Regions from separate parts of the Homo sapiens genome. Here all the other regions are linked to region 3. The links come from fine-mapping of genetic effects on gene expression. A gene starts in region 3. Each other region holds a variant in brackets. All regions are shown on one strand. Distances are between the middles of the regions.

Region 1 (4,245 bases), 39 kb after region 3:
CAGGGCCCTGGCACTCTGAGCCTGTTATGAGAGTGGCGGCTTCCAAGATCTTTGAAATGACTTTGGTGTCATTCTTCCATTGTCTTAATGGAATAGCATCTGGCTTCCTTCTAGGTATGCTAATTTATTTGTCAAAGAGTCACTTGGCCTCACCCTTAGGATTATTCTCTCCAAAACAGTACCTTTCCATTCTTTACATGGCTGGGCTGAGAATTGTCCAACGCTTTAAGTTCTGCTTCCCTTTTGATTATAAGCTGTGTCTTTAAGTTGTTTCTCCCTTCTCGTCTTTTCCTATAAACAGTCATGCAGCACTCTCAACACTTTGTTTACAGATTTCTTCTGCCAAATATCCCAGTATATCACTTATAACTTCTGCCTTTCACAAAACATTAGAACATGGGCACCATTTGCCAAGTTCTCTGCCAACTTATAACAAAGATGACGTTTCCTCCGGTTTCCAATGCCTTGTTCTTCATTTCCACCTAAGACCTCATCAAGATGGCCTTCACTGTCTGTATCTCCATGAATACTGTGTTTACAACCACTTAGTCTCTAGGATAATTTAGGTTCTCTCTGCAGCTGTTTTCATTTGAGCCCTCACCAGAATTACTTTAATACTCTGTTAATGAAAATACAGGCTATTTCTTTAGTCTGATTCTGCAAACTCTTCCAGTCTCTACACATTACCCAATTTCAAGCCACTTCCACATTTTTCAGGTATTTGTTATAGGAACACCCCACTTCTTGGTACCAATTTCTGTCTTAGTTATCTGTGCTGCTATAATAAAATATCAGAGACTGGATAATTTATAAACAGTACACATTTATTGTCCACAGTTATACGGTCTGGGAAGTCCAAGATTAGAGCACCAGTATATTCTGTGTATTCTGTGTCTGGTGAAAGCTACTCTTTCCTTCCAAGACAGAGCTTTCTTACTGTGCCCTCATTGCAGTGGAAGGGGACAAAAAAGGATGAACTCTGTGTACTCACATAAGAGAAGAGGTAGGACAGAAGGGCCTAGCTAGTTCCCTCTGGTCTTTTTATAAGGTTGCTAATCTCATCTATAAGGGCAGAGTCCTCATGGCCTAATCACACTCAAAAGGCCTCACCTTTTACTAGTGTTGTGTAAGTTTCAAAATGAATTTTGGAGGGGCACATACATTCAAACCATAGCACTTTATATCAGGCACTACATTATAGACTAAAGATAAGATTGTGTATGAGGCTTAGACTCTTCTCTCAAGGAGCTCATAACCAATCATGGGCTATAAATAAATTAACTAACAATCTTAATATCATGATAAGCATTATATTGAGGAAGCTTTGGAAACTATTGAAATGAACTTTTTGGCATCTTATGAAGCTCTTGTGAAGTAACCATGAAGCAGAGAGCTGAAGGATGATTAGAGTTAGGTAAATGGTAAATGGGTAGATGAGGTAAAAATCAGTTAGTCTAGGTTATGCTACGCTGTGTAACAAACAGCTCTCAGAACTTGAGATCATAATAAGATTTATTTCTTCCGTATTCCATGTCTGTTATGGGTAATTTGGGAGAGTGTTACTTTGTGTTTCTTCATGCCAGGACCCAGGCTGATAGGGCCGCTACCATTTGGAAAGTGACAAGAGGAAGAGAGAGAATGAAACAACAGTAAGCACTGGCTCTCAGCTTCTACCTGAAGAGACAAACATTGCTTTCACTTACATTTCACTGGCCAAATCAAGCCCATGGCAACAATTGAGTTCAAAAGCATAAGGAGGTATCTGGAAGGAAGAGAATCAGAAAATTTCTGATGAGCCTCACTGACTACCTTCAGGGCAAAAAGGAAGAGAGGCACTCCAGATCAGAGATCTGCATTGGAAACTCCTTGAGAACCAGAAGGGTATGCTGTATTTTTGTAACTGTGAGGAGCCCAGAAAGACTGAAGCCCAAATAAAATTCCTTTATTCAATATTAATTAACGTATTTGTTAATTATTAATAAATTTAACTTAATGGCCAGACACGGTGGCTCACATCTGTAATCCCAGCACTTTGGGAGGCCAAGGTGGGCGGATCATGAGGTCAGGAGATCGAGACCATCCTGGTTAACACGGCGAAACCCC[G/A]TCTCTACTAAAAATACAAAAAATTAGCCGGGTGTGGTGGCGGGCGCCTGTAGTCCCAGCTACTTGGGAGGCTGAGGTAGGAGAATGGCTTGAACCAGGGAGGCGGAGCTTGCAGAGAGCTGAGATTGAGCCACTGCACTACAGCCTGGGTGACAGAGCAAGACTCCATCTCAAAAACATAAAAATAAAAAATAAATAAAATAAATACATTTAACTTAATTATTCTGAGCATTCAGTTATACAGTCTGTCATCTCCGTCCCACCAATACCTAGCACTATGCTTGCCAAATAATTGTTGCAACCAAATTACTGAAACTAAACCATGGTTGATTACATCTGAGTCCCCAGATTGAGGTCTTGCCTTTTTACGGTGAGGCCAAAATTTTCACACAGGCCTTTTTTCCATCCCAGTGCTTACCCAAGTCAGGGAAAAAGGCATTTACTTTCTTGGCCAGTCAGGGTGGTGGAACATTATTATTTATTTAAAACCCATTACCTACAAACCTTTTGCATGGAACCAATTAAGAAATCTCTTAAAGAAAAAGATAATATTATGCTTGGTGTAACACAGTTTTTGAGGGCCTTTTTAATGTGTTAGGAAGCCCCATAGGTCTTGACAATTTTTTTTATGTCTCCCTTTTAAAAGCAAGGCTGCTGCCAGGGAATTTGGACTCTGGTGGTAAGTGCTGGTTGTGGTTTTCCTCAGAATAAAATTATGGGCATGTTGAAGGTGGGGTGAGGCAGAGAGTGGGAAAACGCAGGGAATGTGGGCACTTATGTCGGTTAAGGTGTCAAATTTTACATGTCTGGGTTTTGTTTCCACCAGGCTCCACTCTCTGAAATCACCATTCTGTTATATATGCTTACTGGAAGGGCTGGCTCTGTTTCAAAGAAATCTCTCTGAAATGGGGACATCAGAATGTAAAAGTTGATGAGATGTTGGAAGGGCCAGTTTTAGATGGAGGCAGCAAAGGTGCTGTAATTTGAAAGGGCAGTATGAAAAACAACCCTTCCTGAGAATCAACAGCCTGGAGTTAGAGCCCCAGAAAACAGTGGTGAGCATTTGGTCGTCCACTGTGTCATCTTGGGATGTCTCTAGCCTTTGCTTTCTCAGTAGCAGGCTGGATTCTATAACCTTTAAGGCTGTAAACTGTCTTTTGCATATAACCTGTCCTGAGTCTAAGATCCCTCTCTTGGATATCTTAGTGTCACCATTCTTACACTGGAGATTCATTCCTGTGGATTATGTTCTCAATTTTTGTTTTATTTTTGGAGATGGAGTCTCGCTGTTGTTGCCCAGGGTGGAGTGCAATGGCATGATCTCAGCTCACTGCAACCTCCGCCTCCCAGGTTCCAGTAATTCTCCTGGCTCAGCCTCCCGAGTAGCTGAGATTATAGGTGCCCACAACCATACCTGGCTAATTTGTGTATTTTTAGTTGTTGCTTTTAGAGAGAGTAGAATGTATTTCTAGGCTTTCCACAGCAGAGCTCCATGAAAAGATGTTTAAGTTCTGACTAGAGGGGAATAGAGAGAGTGGTCAAGCACATGTGCACACACAGCCTGTGACTGGCCAACTGCTCCTTCGGTTTCCAGAATTTTTAAAACATCTGCCAAAATGCAGGTGTCATCCCATTCCTCCCTGTCTTTCTAGTTCTTTTAAGCATGTTTTCTATCATGAATAGGACACTGTACCAAAGACAGGAGATACAATGCAACTCATTCCCACCTATTCAGAAGCTTACAGCCAGAAGAAGAGATGAGAATGTGCAATGACTAGCACAACATAGTGATATTGTGACAGCATTTTTCAGTTCTGCATTATACTATGAATTATTGCATAACACTATGCAATAGTACTATTATTTAAGTTCTGCAACTACTATGCAATATTGCATAGTAGTTTTAAGTTCTGGAGCCTGCCTGTGTTCAGAATCCAGCTCTCCCGTTTGCTAGCTGTCAGACCTTGGGCAAGGTACTATGACTTATTTTTGTCATCTGTAAAATGAGGAAACTAATATTACCTGACTCAGAGGCGTTGGGGGGAAAAAAAAATATATATATATATAGCCTGACACAGGGCCCTTAATAAATACTAGTATACTCTCAATAAATAAAACAGTGTGCCTTCAATAAATATTAGT
Region 2 (4,245 bases), 170 kb after region 3:
AATGCCTCACCTTGCTTTGGCTTGCGCACGGTGCGCACACCCACTGACCTGTGCCCACTGTCTGGCACTCCCTAGTGAGATGAACCCGGTACCTCCGATGGAAATGCAGAAATCACCCATTTTCCGCGTCGCTCACGCTGGGAGCTGTAGACCGGAGCTGTTCCTATTTGGCCATCTTGGCTCCTCCCCGGCATTTTTCTTACTTTTTATTTAGGACCAGTTTGTTGTCTTGCGACCTCAGTTCTCTGATTAGTTTAAATAAATAAATAAATAAATAAAAATAAAGAGCTGTGAATCTGCAGATTCTTTAGCATTATTTTCTAGTACTTCTAGGAGTGCTACTCTTTCCTGCTTTCTATATCCTAAGTAGAAGCCAAAAGTCTTTCACATTTTTTTTTCCTATTTATTGAGGTATAATTGATAAACAAATATTGTATATATTTAAGGTGCATAGCTTGATGTCTTGATACACATATACATTTTGAAATAAACACTATAATCAAGGTGATTAATATATCCACCATTTCATCAACATGAGATAACTATTTACCATTTTCTGTTCTCTCTTTTTTTTTCTGGTGGTAAAAACAGTTATCTATCCTCTTAGCAATTTGCACAGCATTCTTTGTGATGGAGTCACAGACACTAAATGGAAGGTTTCCATTGAGCTTTCTTTCTATCATTCAAGGAATTTAATTTAATAAACGCTTCTGGCCACGTAAGACCCCCCAGATCTTGCCTTCAGGCAGCTCATAGTCTGCTGGGAGGAACAAATACAGCAACAGATAATTTTTGAATAGCAAGTAAGTGCTAAAATAAAGGTAATCTATGCTAACAAATAAAGGGGATAAACGGATCACTGCTTGGGTAAAAAACACTTAGATTTTATAGGGGAGATGACACTTGCATTAGTTCTCAAAACAAAAATATTTTACCAGCATAGAAAGCAGGGTAGAACCTTCTAAAAAGAAGAAACATCATATTTTGAGTAGTGGATTTAGCATAATTTGTCTGAACAAATTTATATGGGTAGAACAATATTATGCTCCACTTACAGACCCTGTTGTTAACAGTTTGGTGTAAGGACATTCAAACTTTTCCCCCGGCATATATATTTATTTATTTGTGTAAAATGAAATAATATAGTGTATTCTGAAAGATCTGATAACTGCTTAATAATCAATGATGCTGAATAATTCACATTTTCTCTTGTTTTAACATTTCACTTATTTTTATTTATTTTGCTTTTGTAAATGATTGTTATAAATGTCTTTTAGGTGCAGTACATATTTTTTTCATTGCTTTTGGATTATTTTATTGCATGTATTTATATAAGGGAGTTTCTGAATTAAAGACTACTGACATTTCCAAGACTTTGGTACATGCTACCAAATTGCTTTTCAAAGTGGTACCTCCAATATTTGCCTTCTCAGTAGTTTATGAAAGTGCCCATCTCATCACATACTCACAGGAATACTGTATTCGCATTAAAAAAAACTTGGCTAATTTGGTAGCTAAAAATGGCATTTTATTAACATTTAGAAGTTTGTATTATTTGAATATAAGTAGGTCTCATAACTTGAAATATTTCTATTAACCATTTTGCTTCCTCTTTTGTAAATCCTCCTTTTATGCCCTTTGCCCATTTATATATTGGAAAATCTGGTTTTTCGTCTCTCTTTGAGAGTTGTAGATGATTGTATTATATTTATTGGCTCTAAATATTAGGAAATCTTCCTTTTAAAACCTAGAGCAGGAGCGCCTAAATCTGACTGCTCAAAAATGCCTTTGGAGCTCTAAAAATTTATACATTCTTGGGCCCGACCTGATTCAGTAGTTCTAGTGCAAAGCTCAGGAATCTGCATAAAACTTTCAGAGAATTCTGATATGTTAGCTCAGTTGAGGAACCTCTACTCTTGTCTCCCATAGTCCAGTTACCCTGTTTTGTTGTCATATTTAGCCTTGTAGGGTGTGCGCTTCACCTGACAGTAAGCTGGTGAAGGCTGTGTTGCAGAGGATGAGCCTGGAGAACACTGGCTTTTCAGTTGGCTGATGTTTAAATTCCAACTTTGGTGCTTGCTAGGAGGTGGGACTAGGGCATCTTGGCTGTTTCATTTTCCTCATCTTTAAATGGGGAGAATAATATTTTCTATAATTACCACTTTACTACTAAATCAAGGCTACCAGTTACTAAATTTTTGTAATGGTTCTAGGATAAGATAGTAAGGGTCTGAAAGAGAAGGAAAGAACAGAGCCATTAGATGAAAGAATGGAAAGGTTATGCTGTCCTCTCCTCACTTTTATTGAATGCTGACTGTCGTAGGTCTTATGAGTAGCGGTAACACTATATTATCTCATTTATTCTTTATATCAGCCCTGAGACAGGTTCTATGCCCATTTCCAATGAAGAAACTGACATAACAGGGAGAATGAAGTTATCATTTACCAATACAAGGAAGACTCTAGAAAAATCAGGTTTGGGGATGAAGATCAGAAGCTCCATTTTGTGCA[T/A]GTTAAGTTTGAGATATATGTTCATCATCAAATGGAGATATTAAAGAAGACAGTTGCATTACGACTGTAGAGTTTAAGGGAGAGATCCGGGCTAAAAGTATAAATTTGGAAGTCATCAGCACATTGGTGTTAGTAAATACAATGGGAAGAATGAACTCTCGGCACAAGCACCAGGTGAGTACAGGCGGAAAAGAGGAGTGGGGCCAAGACCTGAGCTGTGGTCTTGGTGCTGAGAGATTAGGAAGACTGGGAGCAACTGGCAAAGAAGATTGATAAGAATTGGTGAGTGAGGAAGGAGGAAATTTAGGAGAGGGTGGCATCTTGGAAGCCAAGTGAAGAAAGAATACCTACTTGATAAGTATTTTGAAATGAATTAATGATGTATCTAGGCAAAATCCAAATTCAGATCTCTTTGACCCAGGAGACTATACATTCTTTTTTTCTATTATTATTTTTTGAGACAGAATTTCACTCTTGTTGCCCAAGCTGGAGTGCAACGGTGCAATCTCAGTTCACTGCAACGTCTGCCTCCCAGGTTCAAGTGATTCCCCTGCCTCAGCCTCCCAAGTTGCTGGGATTACAGGTGCTACGGGCACGTGCCACCACGCCCAGCTAATTTTTTGTATTTTTAGTAGAAACAGGGTTTCATCATGTTAGCCAGGCTAATCTCAAACTCCTGACCTCAGGTGATCTACCTGCCTCGGCCTCCCAAAGTGCTGGGATTACAGGTGTGAGCCACCATGCCCAGGCTATATCTACTATTTATTGTCCCAGGGGCTGACAAACTGTTTTTTAGAAGATACAGTTAATTAATATTGTAGACTTTGTGAGCCAACAGGCAAAATTGAGGCTATCACTCAGTGCTTGTATAAGCATTTAAAATGTATTCACTAGACTAGCCTAAAAAAATAAAATAAAATAAAATGTAACCACTTCAAAATTTAAAAATTATTCTTAGCTCAAGAGCCATAAAACAAAACAAAACAAAAAACCAGGCTGCTGGCCCATGGCCGCAGTTTGCCTCCCTCTTCCCTACATATTATTCACTTTGATTCTGGAAATATTTATTACTAAAATGATAATACTCAAGCATCACCATCTTAATCAGCTATCTCAGTCTCACATAAAATTCCACAATAACCCAAATGGACTTATTTCACCAGTAGCATAATTTAACGTTTTTTCTTATATAAAGGTGGCCTGTATCTAATCCAGCAATTTTATTTCTCCCAAGACACTATTTCTTGTTCCATTTTGCTTAGCTACATAGTTGGCAAAGAAATGGAGCATGGAAGCAAGCACAGAATTTGCATGAGTGTATTTGTCATAGGCTGTGGCCCCTAAAGTGAGTTTCTAACCTGAGAGTGTGACAGAGAGAAAGGGTATTTCCCTCTCTTGTTTTCTTTCTGAATGTCATCCTCAGAAACCTCAACTAAGTCACATTTATTCTCCCCAGGGTCATACCAAAGGGTGTCATTATGATTCATTCCTCCAGCATATGAACTCTGCCCACAGAAGCAGTTTTTAGAAAGATAAAGTTCAAACTTAGTACTATTGACTTCTATTTTTCTTAACTTGATTTCTATCAAAAACCAGTTCAATGACCTAAAGTCATTTACTCTCCTCTTCTGCAGTGCCTTCTGTCTATGCTTTCCACATCCCTCCCCAATCCCCTAAATCTGAAAACTGAGGAATATACTCACACATAGAGCTTCCAAGATCCCTGGGCCATTT
Region 3 (4,245 bases):
ATAGACAAAAAAGTATAAGGGAGTGTAGGGGATATCAGGAGTTCTGGGGGATGATGGGATTGCAATTTCAAATGCAGAGGTTAAGATAGACCTCATTGAAAAGGTGACATTAGAGCAAAGGCTTGATGTCTATGTGAAGAGCATTCTGGACACATGGAGCAGCTGGTGCAGAGGACTGAAAGTGGAACATGGGTTGATTGTGGCTTAGCAATGAGGGGCAGTGCAGACAGAGGTGCAAAGAGGCATCAGGGGGGCCTAGTCATGAGAGGCTCTGCAGGTCATGGTTGGAATTAGATCTGGTGCTGTCCCTCTATGTTGTGGTCAGCAAGATGATTTCACCAGCAGCTTATTCAATATGCTTTCTAAGAAAATCATCATTTAACCAGTTAGTGTGGATTCTCCTGGCCAAATCCTAGTGTGCAAATATGCTGGAAACATTCAATCTTGTTTCCAGCAAGGCTTGGGATAATTTAGAAACTGTTCAATCAACTCAGTAAATATGAATTAAACATTTACAGTTGTATTAAATATTCGAAAGATAGGAACCAAAACAGTCTATCAAGTAATTGTACATATTTGTGCATTTACAAAATGCATATTCATGAGAGCTATGTAAATATATATTTAGTCATTTCCTCTTTCATGTGAAGTGCTATGGCTGAACTACAGATGGTAACTTTCTTGTGTCTGATTATGAAAATGGCACAGTAAAGCATTCTGACATTGTCCTTAGAAAAAGATCATTGTTTGGCCATTACCATGAGTTCAGTGTTCTTGGAACTAGGGAGAAGAAAGTTCTAGAACATGTCTGTTTTTGTGGCAGGCATCTAGGGAGGAAAGGCAGTTATTTCTAAGATACGTGGCTCTCATACTTTTTCCACCAAGGGTCACAAAAAGGAGGAGGTTTATGTGTAGGACATGCTGAAGTCCTGTGGGCTCTGTATTCCAGCCACAGTGCCACCCTTTCTTTCTCTGTCAGGAAAGCATAGTGGGAGGGTAGGGAGTGAGCATAATGACATTTTGGGTTAATATTTAATTCATTCTAATTTATTCAAAAACGTGTCTAACTTCTCATGATATCTATTAATACTAACATGACTGGCAACCCCTCACAACTGCCTCTGACAACTCTTGTGGGTCCTTCTGCCACATCTAAGGACTCTCTGGATAAGGAGATGGTGAGAGAACACACATTCTAATTTTGTCTTTGTGTGAAGGTCTTATGTGAAAATCTTTCTGGGAATTAGAGTTTTCTAAAGGAATCTCTATTTCCTAAGGTCCTGATACTCTTACTAGCATTTGCCAGTTAATTCTGTGAGACCCAAATGTGTGCAGGGCCTGGACACTTTATCTCATACTAGGTCTCTTCCTTAACCATCCACTATTCCCCAAATATTTACACAGGTGGACTGCGTAGTTAGACTGATATTTGTGTCAGCCTTGAAAACTCAGGATGACTCTCGAAGCCGACTGCTCATGAAGTATCGTTGCTTGGATCTCCTCTTTTGGAGACTAAGGGAGCTTGACTGTGTGCAAGTTAGCAATAAGGACTGACTACTGGATTAGGTGGACCACGTGAATATCATCTTGTGGTGGCCTTTTGGGATCTTCTGATCTCACTCAGAGTAAAAGCCAAAGTCCTCACTATGACCTAGAAAACGCTTTGTGATCTGTGCCCCCAGGTCTATGACTTCACCTCTAACTAATCCCCCTCACTTGCTTAACCTCCTTCCTCAATGGCCTCTCTGCTAGCTCCTTGAACCACCCCAGGCCCTTTGCACCTGCTATTCCCTCTCCTCAGCATGCTCTGCCCCAGACAATTGCAATGCTAACTTCTTACTTCCTTCAGGTTTCACTCAGAAATGACTTTCTCAGTGGGGTCTCCCATGACCATTTTATTTAAGATTTCAACTACTTTGCCAGTATTTCACTTCTCCTCCCTTGATCTTTTCTTCCAAGCACTCACTGCCCTCTTGCACACTGTATCTTTTACTTATTTATCTTGTTCAGTTTCTGCCTGCCTCACCTGCCTCACCACAGTGTACATTTCACGAGGGCAGGGATTTTGTCTGTTTTGTTGATTGCTGTAGCCCTGGCATCTTGGGCAGTGCCAGCACCTGTTAGCATTAAATACATATTTACTGAATGAATGAGTGGCTTCATGCTTAAAAGCAAGAAGAGAGACCTTCATAGAGAAGTAGGAAAATGAATTGTTGCACAAATAAAGGGCCATGTAATGAGAGAGAGAGAGCAAGAGAAAGAGGTGAGATGCTGATAGATTTTCCAAAAACATTCCAGTTCCTACTTCCCATCTTTCATGAACCAAGATTTTTACTTCCTATCCATGGGCTATCCCTAAAAATTCCATTTTCTTAGGCTACTGTAATAGGGCTTGTCTTTATTGCTACCAAAAATCTCTAAGCAAAAAAAAAAAAAAATAGAGTCAAACTAGAAGATGCTAATTGTTTTCTCAACATCCAGCATGTCTTTGGAGAATGGGGTTCTCATGTAGCAAACAGTTTTGTGGGTTCTCTTCCGTGTTTCCTTTCTTGGATAACTAGGTCACAGACAGCTGGTGTTTCCCATGTGGCAAAGGGAGCATGCAGAGAAATCCCCGCCTCCTCTCTCTTTGCTTTTCAAGCCCTGCTGAATGCCTCCTAATGATTTCATCTGCTCGGAGGTCTGCTGGCTTTTCCACTCTCGTAGAAGCTGGTGGCGCCGGGGGCTGATGCATGCTCTGACTACTGACTTGAAACATGCTTTGATGAATTAGTGCAACTCGGCCAGCCATTTACTTTAAATTTTACCCTTGATTCTTCCTCTAGCAAACAATTAAGGAGCAGCAGTGGCTTCCTGCAGGGGAGACCAATGCCTTCTGTCCTCAGCGGAAACAGCTTGGCATTCTTCCAATTGATGAATGGCATGGACCAGGAGCACTAGTTATCTTCAGCTTCTGAGCATCCGAATAAATAAACATACAAATGCATAACATAAAATAAATTCAAATTACAAATGAGAAAACCAATCTAGGTTACCGGCAAGTCCTATGACTTGATGTGGAGGCCTGGAAGTGCATCCTTGAATCTTGCAATGCAGTGAGCCAAGGAGCAATGAGAGGCCACATGAATAACCGGGCCAGTGACAAGACACATGTCCTCCTCCTTGCTGGGTGAGTAGCCCAGTCCAACCCCAAAAGCTCCTGAGTAAGAGGAAAATGTCTCTTTAACAGTATTAAGGGATAATTTATTATGTGTATCCTTCCAGGGAAGCACAATGTCAGTAAAGGCCCATTGCATTTGCATTATTTCCAGACAACAGCAGCAGCAGAAAGGGACACTGATTTATTTCAGAGCAAGCACAGGTGAATGTAGTGTCTGTTGGGAATGAGCCAGGGAGCACTTAACCCGTTCTGAGTCTTTCTAATGCTTTAGGGGGAACCATAGGTTTTTGGAATAGTTCTATTGGCTTCTTTGGTCAAATTCAGTGTCCCTGAGCCTGTGCTTCTCAATCGCTTGGTAATAAAAGCTCTTACAGGGTGGAGGTCAGCGAAAAAAATATGTTTAAAAACAGAAAATCTGGTTTTATGCCGTGGCCACGTTAATTTCTTTCCGTGTGACCTGGGCAAATAATTTAATCCTTTTACGACTCAGTTATCTCTTTTGAAAAATGAGTGTAATAATGCTCCCTGCAGGATTTTAATGAAAATCAACTAAGCAAATGTATTAATGAGTGACATATAATGAATTGTATAAATGACATTGTTTTGGTGTGACATCAATTTGGGATTCCTGGGACACAAACAGAAGTTTAGGTATTATCTTCAGGTATGGTGTCTTGGCTAGCTTAGCTAGCAGAGAGCTTTTTTCTCAGAGGAATCATTCAGTGGGAGGTAAAACAGTCACTCTTTGAATTCTGGAATTAGAGAGTTATGAAATTCAAAAGGTCATGGTAGAAAGTGTCTTGGAGACATCTCTTCCGAGCTTCTGTTTTGGCAGAGGGAAAAACTGAAGCTTAGGGAAGCAAAGTAAACTGTAAACATCTCGGAGGGTGAGGTCAATCTTAATTATCTTTGGTTGTTGTTTCTTATCAGTATACACCAGAATGCCCCGCATGCAGCGAATGCTCAAAAAGTGTTGGTGGAAGTGACAGAATTCCATCACCATTAAACACAACCAGTGTTGCGGTTGACAATGGTAGGTTGGAGTATTTTCTCTTCTGATCCAGATTAGATCAGAATTTGATACT

Direction of the effects. Positions count from the first base shown, and alleles are read on the strand shown. Sizes are in standard deviations (SD) of each study's normalised expression. Not every link is listed here.
In carriers of allele T in region 2, the expression in iPS cells of the gene that starts at base 1,758 in region 3 tends to be lower than with A alone (large effect, 1.9 SD a copy in HipSci).

The links. PIP is the estimated chance that this variant, and not a neighbour inherited with it, causes the effect.
Region 1: its variant is the best candidate, but not a certain one, in a credible set for the expression of CASC8 in transverse colon (GTEx, PIP 0.57).
Region 2: its variant is the best candidate, but not a certain one, in a credible set for the expression of CASC8 in iPS cells (HipSci, PIP 0.71).

What each region holds. Positions count from the first base shown.
Region 1 is chr8:127,441,059-127,445,303 of GRCh38, reverse strand. The region is part of intron 4 of CASC8 (cancer susceptibility 8); the gene reads left to right. Among named protein-coding and RNA genes, the nearest start is that of POU5F1B, 27 kb to the right of the region's middle. The variant G/A (reference allele first, on the strand shown) is at 2,104.
Region 2 is chr8:127,307,520-127,311,764 of GRCh38, reverse strand. All of the region lies in intron 1 of CASC21 (cancer susceptibility 21), which reads right to left. The region is part of intron 5 of CASC8 (cancer susceptibility 8); the gene reads left to right. Among named protein-coding and RNA genes, the nearest start is that of CASC21, 65 kb to the right of the region's middle. RefSeq lists an enhancer at 4,036-4,085. The variant T/A (reference allele first, on the strand shown) is at 2,512.
Region 3 is chr8:127,479,652-127,483,896 of GRCh38, reverse strand. CASC8 (cancer susceptibility 8) reads left to right here and starts at 1,758. Exons shown (of 6, transcript NR_117100.1): 1 at 1,758-2,263; 2 at 2,826-3,169; 3 at 4,091-4,193.